Linked DNA regions of Homo sapiens: region 2 is linked to region 1. The links come from fine-mapping of genetic effects on gene expression. A gene starts in region 1. The other region holds a variant in brackets. All regions are shown on one strand. Distances are between the middles of the regions.

The links. PIP is the estimated chance that this variant, and not a neighbour inherited with it, causes the effect.
Region 2: its variant is fine-mapped to the expression of CLCA2 in spinal cord (GTEx, PIP above 0.99).

Annotation. Positions count from the first base shown.
Region 1 is chr1:86,420,837-86,429,181 of GRCh38, forward strand. It overlaps CLCA2 (chloride channel accessory 2), which reads left to right and starts at 3,335. Exons shown (of 14, transcript NM_006536.7): 1 at 3,335-3,597; 2 at 4,503-4,640; 3 at 7,582-7,732. The coding sequence starts at 3,412.
Region 2 is chr1:86,443,607-86,451,951 of GRCh38, forward strand. It overlaps CLCA2 (chloride channel accessory 2), which reads left to right. Exons shown (of 14, transcript NM_006536.7): 10 at 181-405; 11 at 3,902-4,172; 12 at 6,957-7,127. Among named protein-coding and RNA genes, the nearest start is that of CLCA1, 21 kb to the right of the region's middle. The variant C/T (reference allele first, on the strand shown) is at 3,976.

The DNA of each region.
Region 1 (8,345 bases):
GTACCATCTGGGCCCTTGGCAAACTGTGTTTTGTTTAAATTCTTAGTCTTGACAATTTGTCTCTCTTCTTTTCTGATTTATTTCACAGGGATTACATAAACTAACGTGGCCCATGAGCTGTGTAGCCCAACCGTACAGTGTACTACACTTTCCTCTTCTAAATGGGATTGTTGAAACCAAAGCCTGAGAGGAACTAATCCAAAATTTTCTTTGATTTCCCCAAAATGTCAAATCTCCTGACTTCTCTGACACCAATTGGATGTTTTATTCACTTAGACTGTGGGTCTATACCAGCTGACTCCATGAAAAAAATAGACAGGCCCTTCTGGGGCCAGGTTGAACTACAGAGTCAGACAATGAACAAAGATGTGCTTTAGATTCTTCAGTTACTGAAATTGAATAACTCTTATTTTCTTGAAAGCAGAATAAAAGCAAAGCAGATTCCTAGAGTTTATATAACATTGAAATAAACACTTAAAAACTGTATTCCTCCTTTCTTTTCCTTTAGGTATATTTCCTTTCTCAGATATTATAAAATCTAAAATCTATGGCTATGACCAGTTAATTTTTGTTTAATGAAAGGATAAAAAGTTCACTTTATTGACGAAGTCACACTTCACAAAAAGATGCTGTGCTCAGTATAATTTCTAATTCCTTTACTCAATTTCATTTTCTCCACCTTTTCAGGCTGTAAGGTCAGCCTGATGAAAGAAGAAGGCAGTAAAAAGAGACCTTCAGCTGGCCCGGTCCCAGGCCTGGTTGCTGATAACAAAAAGGGCTCTGAATTAGACGTTTAAAAAAAATCAGATAGATAAGAGTAGATATCATGCCTAGACTCTCAACCCGGGCTAAGCAAAGCCTGAGTGAGCTTGTTCAGGTTTCAACCCAAGTGAAGCTGGACAAAATTGTTCATTTGTAGCTGTTCTTTATAAAGTTGCATGCACTCTCTAGCCAATATTTTCCACCCTCACATCCCAAGGGAACCATAGTAATGATAAAAACAAGTGGAGAGAGTGCTGAATATCAGTCCTCAATCACTCCCTCCCATAGCAAACAACCTATACAAGTGTCATGAAAAACTTCCCTGAGTGTTGGCAAAAAGCCGCTCTTGCAGTGTGCTTACGAGTTTAGTTTTTGAGCATATTGGTTTATCGATGGGAATATTTGTATTCTTAAAATCACAAGAGGTTGGCATAAGAAAATAAACTGCCAGGGATATTTGAAATGAAGTGCATTGTTCTGCTCAATGAGTCACATTTACAGACAGAGCCTTTGGAGCTGCCACACCTCTGGCCTTCTACTCTGAAGACACAGTGAACAAGCAGAAAAAAACTAGGGCTGGGAATTCAGTTTGGGAGAAAAGGCAGCTAAGCTGACCTTTGAACTTTAGGGTAAGACCCTTGGGCAGCCACGTAATGACCAGCGCCATCCCATTCTTCAAGGAGAGCACCATACTCAAGCACTGCCTGTCAAGAGGGAGCAAGAGGGAAACTGCTCTAGAACAGAGGAGATGCCTTCTAGAAAACAAGGGTGGGGGAAAGAATTTTTACACTATAACCCGGGGCTCCTTCACTATCTTGTTTTATTTACTTCTCCTGACTCCATTCATTCAGTCATTCAACAGAGAGTTTACTGAGATAGGTGCTGGGGAAGTACTGAATGAAAACAGACTCCATCCCTTCCTTCATACAGCAGGAAGCTGACAATCAATTATACAATATAAATTTGACATTGTTACCATGATCATACTGCAAAGGTGAGTTATCTGATGCTATGGAAGCATGAAAGAAGGGAATTTGACTTAGTTATGGAGCTCAGGCCAGGCTTCCAGGACACAGCTGGAATTTGAAGGAAAAGCAGGTGAGAAGAAGCATGAGAAAATGATTCAAGCAAGACAGCAAGGGGAAAAAAATTCCCTCAACATCTGTCAACATTGCAGTGCAATATCAAAGCCCAAGTTCAGAAGACTCCAACCTTGCTGGGAAGAAGAGTGACATCACACTGCCCATGAAGATGTTGAAAACAGACAATGTTGGTGAAATCCCTGTTGAGAGCAGGGACAGACCGTTTCCTAAATGCTACACTCCCCTCCCCAGAAATGTTCCGAGACGGGGCCACAGCAGGGAAGAGTCACAGGTTTTGCTTGCTGTGGACCTCTGACGCTGTGAATAAAACTTTTTCTTTAGTTTTACAATAGATGTCACTGTGCGGCATTCTTAAACACAAAGAAGAGGGAGAAACGAGGTTACTAAGATAATTTAGTAACTAAGAGAGAACATGATATATTGAAAAACAGTGGAATTTGGAGTCAGTTGGTTCATTCTAGTACGATGATAATACTCCCAACCTTGAACAAGTTACTTAGATTTTTTTGAACATTAGTTCTGTCACCCATAAAATAGGCATAATAAAATCCATCACTCAAAAAATGTTAGTTTCTTCTCTCATTGGCTAATTTTCATAATCAGAATTTCCAAGACTCATTATTTTCATTTGAAAAGTACAAATTATACCTGCATCAGAGTATTGATATTTAAATGAGTTCATTTGTAAACTTTAAAGCATGAGGTAAATATCAGGTATTATGAATCAGTCATAAAATATTTGCGATGGTTACTATATATTAGATCCTGTTTTTGGTCCTGGAGAAATGGAGGGTTGACTGAAGCAGGGCCTTGCCCTTAGGAGAGAGCTGAAGGAGAAATCTATTCTTCTTCCTGAGGCAGAGAGAAAAGGTAGCAAGGCCAGAGGGAAAGGGCTGCACAGGCACCCAAGTTCCTGGCAGTTGGCCCTCTCTGGGGGATATCTGATATCTGACCTCCAGCCATCAGCTGAGAGCTTGCCCAGACTATCTGACCCAAGGGCTGTAGGGACTGGGCTGCAGAATGGATTTCTAAATCTTCAAAATAAACAGGCAAGGAAATCTTGCAACAAATGAAAAATGACTTGAGGGCAGTAGAAAGTACTTGTGCCAACTGATGGAGGAGGTTATGAAAAATGAGGAGAGGAAAATCACTATAGACTTCTGTGTTTCTACTGCAAGTGGATTGAACAGTCCAGATATACTGATTTCCAGCCCATATTTCCTGCTTTTAAGCTCCTTTGGTCTTATTTCCCTCTTCTTTCTGAAAAGTTATAAAATGAATGAAGGGCAGAATGTTTCTTGCCCAACCATGATTCAGGAGGCAGCTCAGCCACAGAACAGGCAAGTGTAGCATTGCCTGGAGGAAAAGGACTTGTAGAGGCAGGTCCCAGATGGATCCACCCCAGACTTTTCAAAGAAGACACCTCCTTCATCTTGTGTTCTAAAACCTTGCAAGTTCAGGAAGAAACCATCTGCATCCATATTGAAAACCTGACACAATGTATGCAGCAGGCTCAGTGTGAGTGAACTGGAGGCTTCTCTACAACATGACCCAAAGGAGCATTGCAGGTCCTATTTGCAACCTGAAGTTTGTGACTCTCCTGGTTGCCTTAAGTTCAGAACTCCCATTCCTGGGAGCTGGAGTACAGCTTCAAGACAATGGGTATAATGGATTGCTCATTGCAATTAATCCTCAGGTACCTGAGAATCAGAACCTCATCTCAAACATTAAGGTGAGTGGAAATTATGAAATTGATACTAGCATCCCATTTGATCAGACCTGTAGCCTTATTTAGAAGCTAACTACCCTGCCTGGTTTGTATTTGAGTAATACAGAGAACAGCATTTTTAAAAGATAGCGCCACAACGTTATGATTATGGCTAACTAAGCCAGTTTGTTCATCTAATTCTGTGTAGTCTCAGCTCACAGAGTGTTGATCTAGCCCTCTATTTTGTTATTGTTGGTTGCTACTAATTTCAGCTCTTTTGTTTTCCTACATGACTGTTTTTGGGGTAGCAACTTAGAAAAATAACAACCCATTGTGGCAACAAAGATTGAATATTTAACTGATGAATAAGCATGATAATGAGCATGCTTGTTAAAATCATATTGCTAGATTCCATCCTGAGGGTGAGAATTCTCAGGCAGAAAGGGTGAGAGTCTGCACGGTGGGCCAAAAAGCAAAATTATTTCTTTTCACTTGAATGTGCTGTAACATAATTGACTATTTTTACTTTAATATGGCAAGGGAGGATCATAGCTCTATGATGTAAGAGCCTCCATTTAGTATTGCTTTAGTGAAATCAGTAGCATCATAAGGTGTGGTCTTGAATGTGCCCACAGGTGTGACATGAAAAGGATTTGTTCCACAAAAGCTTAAAAGCCTTTCTCAAAATTGGGAAAACTATGAAGGCAAGCACAGACATATAATTAGTGTCCTAAAATCTTCCATATAATCATTTAAAGTTTTTTTAAAAATTTGCTCCTATGTTTTCCCAAAGTCTAGGGCTTTCTCTAAAAGAAATGGGTCTCTTCAAAATATTTCATTGTCTTTTATTACTGTTTAAGCATACCAGAAAACCAAAACATACAGGATTTACAAGTGGTAAAGTAAGTTTTTCTTTTGTCTGGCTGTAGGAAATGATAACTGAAGCTTCATTTTACCTATTTAATGCTACCAAGAGAAGAGTATTTTTCAGAAATATAAAGATTTTAATACCTGCCACATGGAAAGCTAATAATAACAGCAAAATAAAACAAGAATCATATGAAAAGGTAAGAATCCAGGATTTCATTCAATGATCTCAAGGGGAAAAAAAACACCAAAATATACTGTGCTCAAACGATAAAAGTGAGAAGTTAAGTAAAAACAAATCATCAGTATTAACAATGCAAATAATATTAATGGGCAGAATGTTATCAACAAAATATATGAGAATAAATGAATGCAAATTGTGCAGTAAAAAATGAGTCAAATGCCATAGCCTAAGTAGTTTCTCAGAAGATCTCTTTATTTTGTAACTTATGGAGTACTTTCTGAAAAGTTTGGTTGAGGATCAAGAACTAGTTTTATCCTACTGAGGATGAGCTGCAAAGGGAACAGTTCCAATTATGACTATACCCATTTACCATCCTGTCAGGAGCAATAAACATGCATGTCCAGACAGAAATATAAACCACCATGCATATAAAAATATGACTGCCATCTTATGCCATGGTGTAGATTATCAGAATTTCACATTAGCTCAAGTCCAGAATATTGTTTTAGGGGAATAAGGAGATTAGAAGGAAGGGAGGAAGGATGTGGGGATGTGGATGAGTAGGGGAATGGCTACCTTTTTTTTTCCACCTATAGAGGAACTTCACCTTGAAAGGCTCTCATAAGTTGCAGATCATGATTAAGCACCCATGATGATGTCTGGTACATACTAGTGTGCACACTATAAATAAATGATAAATAATATAAATGGTAAATCACTGTTTGAAGTCAACTGTGAACAAGAGTCCATTGCAGCTACCAGAAGGGCCAGAAGTAGAGGCATTGGCAACTTATCTCAGGGTTTCAGCAATGGAGTGGGTTTGAGATTGTAACTACATCTCTAACAGAATGACTCAAACATGTGGTACAGCTTTCCCCTTTCCTTATTTCTGACCCTCAGTATGAAATTTCCTAAGTCTGTTTCATTCTTAGCTCTCCTTCAAAGCTACTCTGTCAGAAATTGAATGGTATAGCAATCCAGATAGGTACCCCAATGTCCTGAAGAAGTTAAAGAGCCTGTGAAAAGCATTTGACCTATGACCAGATGAAAGCATTTGAGAATGCTTGCACATGAAGATAGGATAGGTGGGGGAACTGGGGTAAGCTGGGAAGAGTTAGTGTTTAAGCTCCAACTAAGTGCCAGGCATTTTACATATATTATTTAATTCTCACATAACTTAAAATTAGTTTCTGTGATCACAAATTAAAACACTGGGGCTTGAATAAGGTATGGACTTTGTCCCAAATCTAACAGCTAGTAAATTACAGAGCCATAATTTGAATGTCTATTTGCCTCCAAAACCCATGCTTTTTGCACTAAGCTTTGTTGTCTCTAGCTGTCAATAGAGATTTAATGCATCTATTGGGCCTTCAATAGAACTAAGAAGTATTGGAGACAACAAACACCAAAACCAGGTTGCCATAGGTAACACTTGATCCTAATGGAGGGGAGAGAAATAAGTAAAGCAAAAGTGAAAATATGAGTGAACGGAAAGACCAAAGGAAACAATCGTCCCTGGATGCTGTTCATTTATCTGTTGGATACCAATTCTTTAACCTCAGAATGTCAATTAAGCAAACAGTGAATGATCATTATGTACGGGACCACGCTAGGCACTTCAGAGAACCCAAGGACCAGCAAGGTAGTTCCTGTCCTTCCAAGTCTACAATGAGATGTAGGTAGGAATCATGGAAGGGGGAAAGGGTTAGGAAAAGTAGATAAGAGCTGAATTACTGTGGTCTATAAGGTATAAAGTAACCCCAAACAGCCTCTGAGTATTCCATTCCATGAAGGGCACTCTTTCCTTTTGGCCTCAGGACAAATTTTCAGACATAGGAATGAGGTTTTACCCAAGTGAGGACTATCCAAGAGTGTGACCTCTTCAGCCTTTTTTGTAGGTACTTCCTTGTAATGACCTTGGCTTGAATTCTTATCTTTCTAAAAATAAATGTTAATTATTATAAAAGTAATTTATACTCATTGAAAAAAATTAAATAATGTAGAAACATGGAAAATAAAAATGAAAAATTGTATTGTCCTCTTCTTCTCAGTGGCACACACACAGACACAGATGGACACACATACATACACACACACACACACACACACACACAAAACACATATACATATTGTACATAGAGTGATAATTGTGTATATTGGATCGTATTAGATCTATTTTTCTAAAATCAGCTTTTAAAAAAACTTAACAGCATATTTAACTTTTAAGTGCATATCCAGAACAATCTGTCATCTTTCTTCCCAAAAATAAAAGAAACAATGTTATATATAACATTTTCTTGTCTTGATAGTTATATGAGTGGATATTTCAGTTTTGGACTTAAAATCTGTTTTAGCAACAGTAATGGAAATGGTCAGGCCATAAGATGAAATATAACTTCATTGGAATGATCGTTTTGCTGATCTAATTGGTTACAGGAAAGAAAGGACAAATTTTCAAAGAAATAATGTTCTATTGTCTTACACCAATAAAATAACCCACAGAAAGTTGTTCACAAAAGGCTGTAACATTTTACAGCCTTCTGAATGGTTCTGAACGATGTATAAATGCTTTTAGAATTTCTTCAAATATTTTAATTGCATTTTATAGTGTTTTGTTATATCAGACTTTTACAGGATTGACTTTTGAGAATATTTTAATCTGGAATGTGGAAAGATCAAATGGAAGTAATTAGGTTCCATAAAAATTTGCTAAGCTTTCATAACATAGACCTTTTTGGAAATCCCAAGTGATTTTATTGATATGTAGCTGTGGGTGCATTTTAAACTCCATCCACAAGGTGTTTTTCTTCAATTTTGTTTTTAAATTGGGTTATAATTACATACAATAAAATGCACACATCTTAAGTGTACAGTTCAAAGTGCTTTAATGAATGTATACATTTATGTCACCAACAACAGAGCTGAGAAAGTATTACAAGGCATTTCTTTTAATTTAGGCAAATGTCATAGTGACTGACTGGTATGGGGCACATGGAGATGATCCATACACCCTACAATACAGAGGGTGTGGAAAAGAGGGAAAATACATTCATTTCACACCTAATTTCCTACTGAATGATAACTTAACAGCTGGCTACGGATCACGAGGTAAGTGGGACCAATAAAACAATAGCCATTGGACAATACTACTTATAATATTCTGTGCTTGGTGCTGAAAGGGACTCACTCACAAAACCTGAAACTTGTCAAGGACTTACCACTCAAAGGGGGAGATAGGTCATATGCCCATGCAAAGATGAGGGGCTAAAGTGAACTCGAAAGAGTTTAGCACCAGATTAGTGGCCCAGAGAGGAGTGCTATAAGAATTCAATCAAGGAAACGTCATTTAGAGTCAAGGGTGGTCAGAAATGTCCTCACAAAGGAAAAGGTCTTCAAGATTGAACATCATTTTGATAAATGGAAAGAAGGGAGAAAATAGTGGGAAGACTATGAAGAAAACTGTGGCAGCAGAAAAATTAAAGGCATATAGGAGAGACAGAGACCCTGATGATGGTGCAGGGAGACTGTGGGCAGTGGGAGAAAACGTTGAAACATACATGAGGGCCAGGTGATGCACTAAAATGGCCACATTTTCAAGTCACCACTCAAGGTTTCTAAGCACAGGAGTGACTCCATCAAAGCAGTGTTTTAAGATTAATCTGGCTTCCTCTGATCAATGAAGGAGAAACTGGATATCAGGAGAATAACTGGGAGAAGTCGA
Region 2 (8,345 bases), 23 kb after region 1:
AATAACATGCAATATTTTGCTTTGCAAAGTATTTTTTATGAAAAATGATGTATAACTACAGTACCTGTCAGAATTAAATTATTTTTATTTTTGCCAATTAATTGTTGTTTGTTAAAAAAGAAAAAGATGGAATGATTATGCATACACCAGAAACTCTCATATATATCTTCTCTTTAACAGCTTGAAAGTACAGGTGAAAATGTCAAACCTCACCATCAATTGAAAAACACAGTGACTGTGGATAATACTGTGGGCAACGACACTATGTTTCTAGTTACGTGGCAGGCCAGTGGTCCTCCTGAGATTATATTATTTGATCCTGATGGACGAAAATACTACACAAATAATTTTATCACCAATCTAACTTTTCGGACAGCTAGTCTTTGGATTCCAGGAACAGCTAAGGTAGGTGTTGTGAGTTTGTTCCTAAGGACAACGTTCAACCAAGTTTATGATTTTCAGCTGAATCACATGATTAAATGCATTGTGTAAAGAAAATCTTGTTTTAATATATCAAAAGTTTACTTTAAATTTATGAGGCCATTTTGTGAATATTAAAAATTTAAGAGGAATAACTAAGGTATATTCCCAGTTTTATATATTAGACACCAAATACTTCAACACTGAAAATTAGTATTTCCACTAGTATTACAATTAATGTTTTTCTAGCCTACATATTTCTTTACATAATCCATACAAACACACTTTTCTATATGCTTAGAAAAAAATCTCTACTTAGAATTTATAATATGAATACATGCAATGCATGTGGTTTTTAGCATCTACTGGGTGTGCTGGGTTTTGTTCCAGGTACTTTACAATAAAATGCCATGGTAAGAGCATGAACAGGGTACTATCAGAACATACAAGAGGGTGGAAGGAAGAATGCTTCCTGGAAGCAAAGACATCAAAATGGAAATATAAGGAATAACAGGCCAGAGGTGGGTATGATATTGTGGGCAGAGGAAACAGCATATAGAAAGACTCAGATAAAAAGAACATGGCTGTTCATAGAACTAGAGTAGTTCAATAGAGTAGGGTAATCTATAAGTTAGGGATGTAGGCAAAGGAAGGAGAGGGGAGTAGTGAGGCTAGACAGGTAAACAGGAGCTGTATTAGCAAGGGCTTTGCACAACAGTAAAGTGAACAGGGGCTTGAATCCTGAAAGTGAAAGGGAACCACTGATGGTTCTAAGGAGAACTGTAAGTTGATCAGATTCACTCTTGCACTGCCTGAATTCAGTGCCTCCTCACATGCTGCCCCACCCCCACTTTTGTTGTTGTTGTTGTTGTTGTTGTTGTTGTTGTTGAGATGGAGTCTCGCTCTGTCACCCAGGCGGGAGTGCAGTGGCACCATCTCAGCTCACTGCAACCTTCACCTCCCAGGTTCAAGCGATTCTCCTGCCTCAGCCTCCCGAGTAGCTGGGACTACAGGCACTTGCCACCATGCCTGGCTAATTTTTGTATTTTTTGGTAGAGATGAGGTTTCACCATGTTGGCCAGGCTGTTCTCAAACTCCTGACCTCAAGTGATCTGCCTGCCTCTGCCTCCTGAAGTGCTGGGATTGCAGGCATGAGCCACCGCTCCCACCACCTTCTTGACAGCCCCTTAACTAGCCTTCTTGACTCTGAACTGCCATCCCTCCAGTCCATTCTTTACCTCTATAAAAGCGATCCTTCTGAAGCACAAATCAGTCTGTCTTTTGTTCAAAACCTCCTTGGTGGTTTCAGAATAAAATCCAAGTGTTAACCTTTTTTTTTTTTTTTTTTTTTTTTTAGCTTAGAAGATTCGCATTTATTCCAGATGGGAGGCTGAATCTCTCAGTTGTAGATTTTGACACATTGGCACTATTTTTGTTTCTGATTTATTGCCTTGGCCATAAGGTCAAAGGCAACAATAAAGTGTACTTTCATTAATATCACCATGGACTTTCGAGTATTAATATGACAAGAAAAGACAACTATTCATTTTTTTTAAGGGGATTGGACACACAAACTTCAGGAGGGAAGAATCCCCTCTCCCATGGTAGAATCCTCTATCTTGATAAAATGGTTGCTTTATTGGTCAGATTTTGGACTTGGATCGTCTTTGTTATAATATTAATAGTACAGAGCATGTAAGATTTTCTGCATTCATTTGAAATTCCTAATACCAACCATCTTTTAATTTATAAAAAAATGAGGGAAACTTATAATAAAACAAAAAATACTACCCTCACAGACGATTAATAGCATGCAATCTATGAAATATTACACACATTAAAAGTCTCCAATTACTGTGTGCCTGGCTCATCACACAGTATCCTTCCAAGACGATCTATAGAATTCAAAACTGTACAAAAATTTTAAAATATGCAGAAAACCCAAAAGGTATTTTGTAAAACAAAGATCACACACACATTAGTACTAAATAGGGAAAAAAAATCAGCAGACCCATGGACTCCCCCTGCTCCCAACTGCAGGTCTTCAGTATAGAGGATTTCACCAGTGTCTTCTGCACTCCCCCAATCCAGTAGGGGTCCAACAGACCAGCTGCATTCCTCCTGACTGCCACCAACTCTGTTTTCTGCATAGTTGTCTTCTCTGCTTCTGTAGTGGTGAGCTGTGGGAACTTTTTTTTTTTTTTTTTTTTTTTGATGGAGTCTCGCTCTGTCACCAGGCCCAAGTGGTAAATCTTACATACCAGACCCTTCATGTTTTGGCTTCTACCCAAGCTTCTCTCTTAACTTCTTCGATGCTCTGCTCCTATTGAACTTTTCTCCAAATTCATCATGTTCTTTTCACACCTGTGTATAAGGGCCAGGGACACTTTACCTACTTCTTGCTCCCCTTGCCTGACCTCTTGGTCTGGATTAGATGCCCTGTATCAAAACATTTATTACACTCAGAGAACTTTTTGATGTGGAAGTTCCTGCCATGCATCTGTCACTAATGTTATGATTCAAAAAACAAAAACAAAAAAACATAGTCCTTGAATCATAACTTAATGGAAAATAGTGAAGCTCATGAATCCCAATGAAGAAAGATGGCTAGGGTGTGGTGCATCTGAACTCTCCACCCTGAGTTACGCTTCAACCCCTTGCTTTTCTGTTCTTCCTTCTGCTTTGTTGTGTTTCACTTGTTACTTCTGGGGGTTTGATAAGGAGCAGCAGCAGAAGTCAGGGAAAAGCAATATATGTATAGCTTAATCAAAAGGACGAATTTCTGCTATATTGTAATTTTAGTCTTTTTCTTTCAGATTTTCTTTTGTAGGTTTTTCCCAGGCAGATAGGCAAGAGTAGTGTTTAGCAGTATTTCTATAAATTACCCAAATTAGATATTGTATAATCCTGACCTATTAAAAATAGTAGGTCCTTTTCTTGGTCCCTAGTAGTGTATGTGTTTTTTGTTGATTGAGATTTCTGAGTGTGGAGTTTTTGGGAAGTGGAGTGAAAGAAGGATGTTGTTGCCTTTTTAGTCCACGGTGTCCACATAAATTATAATGGTCCAATTAATTTGATGTAATTTTCTCAGTTATGAAAAGAAATGAAAAACATTTAAACGCCTTTTTGGGGAAGGGGCTCAGATTAATATCTGTAAAGTACTTTGAAGCTGGACACTATTATTGTTATGTTCTAAAAATGGGAATCAAGATGTATCCTCCCTCACTCCAAATAAATTCGAGGTGTAATTCCCTAAAGAATTATCTAGAAATAAAGGTGACTTATGCTATGAAAGCCATGTAAATACAAATTTATTCATCCCTTAACCAATGCTACTTTTCCTGGCATCTTTTTGTAGTATTTTAAAAAGTGCAACATCAACAAAACAAGAGCAAAATTCTCCAGAAGTTTTGATGTATGCTTTAAAATTAGGGTTGATTTTTTTTTCACACTTTCCAAAACAATAAGACTTGTTTTACAGCCTGGGCACTGGACTTACACCCTGAACAATACCCATCATTCTCTGCAAGCCCTGAAAGTGACAGTGACCTCTCG[C/T]GCCTCCAACTCAGCTGTGCCCCCAGCCACTGTGGAAGCCTTTGTGGAAAGAGACAGCCTCCATTTTCCTCATCCTGTGATGATTTATGCCAATGTGAAACAGGGATTTTATCCCATTCTTAATGCCACTGTCACTGCCACAGTTGAGCCAGAGACTGGAGATCCTGTTACGCTGAGACTCCTTGATGATGGAGCAGGTAACAAGGAATGTCATGACATTTTATCATCTTCTCAACAGCTGTTGTGATATGATGCGGTAGTATCAATATTAAGCTTATCTGTAAGATTCCTTGAGTTCAATTTTTTTTTAATCTTACAATATTCTCAAATTCTTATAGAGTCACTGATATACTGAATAGCTACAGGTTAACATGGAAAAAGAGAGTCCTTGTGAGACTCCTCATAGTGTCTATGTTTGAGCAAAGGGTGGGAGGCAGCCGCTGGACACCTTGGTCCTGGCTTCCACTTGCTGAGGTCATACAGGAGCAGGCTTCTATGTCCTTATGACATACTTATATTCCTCTAAGAGTCACTAGCTTTATTATTCACTGAAGTAATCAGATTGGACTGTTAAAATAGCAAATGAAAATCAGAAGGGAGGTGCAGTGACAGCGAACCCACTTTTTCCCTTTGGACCCCAGTTATGAAGAAAAAATTGGAAACTGAACTTGTGACCTATAAGATGACCCTAGACCCAAGAGGCTGGGTTGAAGAGAGGGCACAGCTCAGTTCTAGCACAGCCAATGCCTTTTACGTGTGTAATTTGGTCCCAAGAAGACCCAGCCTGCAAGCCTAGTGGAATCAGAATAGAGAAAAGTTCTCATTCTGCACATACAGCATTCAGAGCCTCGTCATCATACATTATAGATGGTATAGCATCCAGCCAGGTAAACAGCAGCACTTGGGATCCTTTGAAAAACAAATTCCTTTGTTGTTCCATCTTTCCTATTTGGTTATTTTCCTAAATTACATTCTTAGAATGGCAGTAGACCTGCCTCTTGGCAGCCCGAAGTGTTTGATCTGCTAACAAAATTATATTCTTTTGCCCTGTTGTTTCAAAGTTAATCTTTTTTCAAGAGTCTTAAGTTTGGTAGCCCATCAGTATCTTGCCATGGCAATCATGTATGATGTGCAGGAAAACAAAAGTTCATTCAAAGGGTTTTGGTTCAAGTCCACCACTGGGGGATACCAGAGAAGTCTTCTTGTTTTGCCTGTTGGATTGGATCCAAATGAACTTCTCATGCTCTGATGGCTTATCCATGGTTGCACCTTTCATTTTTTGTTTATGGTCCAAAAATGTACTTTTGCAGAATGTTTCTCTCTTGCCCCACCCTGTGGGCCAGCCTGGAGAACAGAGCCTACTCCCCTAGGGAATATCGTCTGATTCAGCTCAATTGGCTTTTATATTATTCCTTGGAACTATTTTATTTGTTTGATATCTAAATGTATGCACTAAAAAAAGGAACAATAAAAAATACTGCTCAGGCATCAAAATGTAAATTGTTTCCCCTCCAATCAATACTTAACACGCATGTACATAGTTGTTTAATACTTTTATAATGGAAGCAGTATTTATTTGCTCAGTAAATGAACTGTAATAAAACTTATACCTCTGAAATGATTTACAATTTAAAATGTACTTTTTCATGCATACTCTCAAATAATCATCACAACAACCCTGCAAGATAAGTTATCTCCATTTTATAGATGAGAAAACTGAGGCTCAGAGACATGAAGCCTCATAGCTACTAAGTGACAGATGCAGGCCTTCAAATTAATTCCTCTGTCTCCCAAGCCAATGTTCTTTCCCCATTTCTTTCTGCCTCAGTTATTAAAAGAGGTGGCAGTGGTGACTTTAATATGGAGAGATTTTCCTTTGTAATTTCTCAACAAAGATAAACCTTATTAATCATTAAATCACTAAATACCAAGATTTGATTTCTTACAACAGACAAAAAAGAGTTCTAAATCTATCTTGATAATAAAATGTTTAGCACTTTTTATTTCATTTAAATATACTCCTGCTTTTCTTATGTTAAGGAGCCCTGCCTTTGCAGTGGGGAAGAGGGAGATTCTGGGGACACTTTAGCAATGATACACTGCTGGTATGCAGGGCTGTGTGTGTGGTATGAAAACTGAATTGACCTCTAGGATAGAGGACAAGCTGCTTGCCCACTATGGCCACCTGTACTTGAATGGCAAAAGTGATCTATACTTGGGCTAAGCTGGACTTCCCTCTGCTGCCCTGGGGTCTAGGCCTTCCTGCCATTGAGTCATGATTTTGGCTTGGAATTGAACTGCTCTCTGAAGATCAATTTAAAAAGAAGGAAGTACATCACTGGCTAACCTTTCAGAATGCCCCCTGAAGCAAGGCACAGTAGATGCTACCAAATTCTGTCAAACTCCAGGTCATCAAGTCCCCTAGAATCTAGAAAAACAGTTCCAGATACCCTCTAATGAGGAAATTAAGTAATTTCACACTATTTTATAAACTAACCAAAGTTTTTATTTATTAAAGGTCCTTAATCAAGTGACTTCAAGGCATTCATAAACCCTTGAAACTGTATGAAAATGTGTATATGTGCATATATATTTATTTCCTAGGGACAAAATAGCTTTTATTCATATCTCAAAAGGGTCAATGACTATAAGCAACCTGAAGAATGTGCTTGATTTCTAGAAAAAACTAGTATTATTTTCAATGATAAGTACAAGAATGTTAAAGGTGATGATTAAATGTTTTATTAGCATGGTACAACTTATTCACCTTTAGAAAATCATTTTACTGAGGTAAGAAATTACAGGGAGAAATTATGGACCCATTGGATTTTTTATCACCTGAGAATGTAAAAAGTAGATAAGAGCATGATAATATATCTTATATAGAAAGAATAAGGGGAGTAAATCTCATTTTTAATGACTTAAATATTAGTAATCTACTATAATAACAAGTGTTGACACTGTGTTTTTTATATATACAGGTGCTGATGTTATAAAAAATGATGGAATTTACTCGAGGTATTTTTTCTCCTTTGCTGCAAATGGTAGATATAGCTTGAAAGTGCATGTCAATCACTCTCCCAGCATAAGCACCCCAGCCCACTCTATTCCAGGGAGTCATGCTATGTATGTACCAGGTTACACAGCAAACGGTAAGAACCATTAGCACTGTTATTTGAGTAACATCATTTCATGTACATATCTCTGATGGGTATGTGTGTACTGGGGTGGCAGGGAGTGAGAGAAAGAGAGAATTTCAAAACTCTTTACGCTTAAGTCCATACATAATTTGTTGACTGTTTCTTCAATCCTCAGTGATTCATGGTAGGGGGGTAACAGGAAGGCGATAGGTAATGCCCACAGATTATACCTAACTTCATTTTAGTCATTATGTTGACCTCTTTCTTGTTTCATCAGAATTACTAATAGATAAAGAGATTTACTGGGTTTTCTCAGTTCCTGCTTCCGTGTTTCCTCTATAGAGGTTTAGGCAAGAGAAAGAGGCAAAAAGTTATTAGCAGTTGAAAGAAGGAGGCCAACAGCCCAAACAGTCCACACAGGAAATGAGTTCCTAAATAAATATGAGCTTGGGTGTTACAGGCAACTAAGTGATTCCTGAAGATGTTTTGCTTTTCTTCAAGAAAAAAGTTCAAAATAAATGGAAGATAGTTATCTTTTTAACACCATTATAATAGTTCCTGATAGGAAGCGGTGGTTAAAGCATAATAGACCAACAGAAATATATCATGCTACAGTCTTTGAAAACAATCTCAAAAAAGACTTCTAAGCATTTTTATTTCCAAAAATGCAGATTCTTTATAAATATTATTCATGTATTTTAGAAGTTATAACTAATCATTTGGACTATTCCACACCATGATTCTATACTTTTTGTTTACTTTTCAGTCCTCATTCTTCCTGACCTCACCAGTATCAAACACAGCCAAGATCCCTCCTTTGCCATTTCCTGGTTTCTATGATACCTCACTCTCCTGATTACCTCCTATTTTCTGGAATTTTTTATCAGGCTCTTTTTCCAGCTCCTCCTTTTCTACCAGGCCTCTAAATGTTGTCTGAGTCTGAACCTTCTTACTTTACCATCTGGAGCCACATTGCCTGGTTTTGAAACCCAGCTCCTCCATTTACTAGCTGTGTGACTTTGGGCAAGTGACTTAGCTTCTGTGTGTCTCAGTTTCATCATCTAAAAAAATAAGGGTAATAATTGTACCCTCTTCGTAGCCTTGTTGGGAAAATTAAATATCTGATACATGTAAGGCCTTAGAAAAGTGCCTGGCACATAGAAGGTGCTCAAAAAGTGCTACTTATCATTATAGTAATAATTATTATTAGTTAATCTCATTAATCCATAT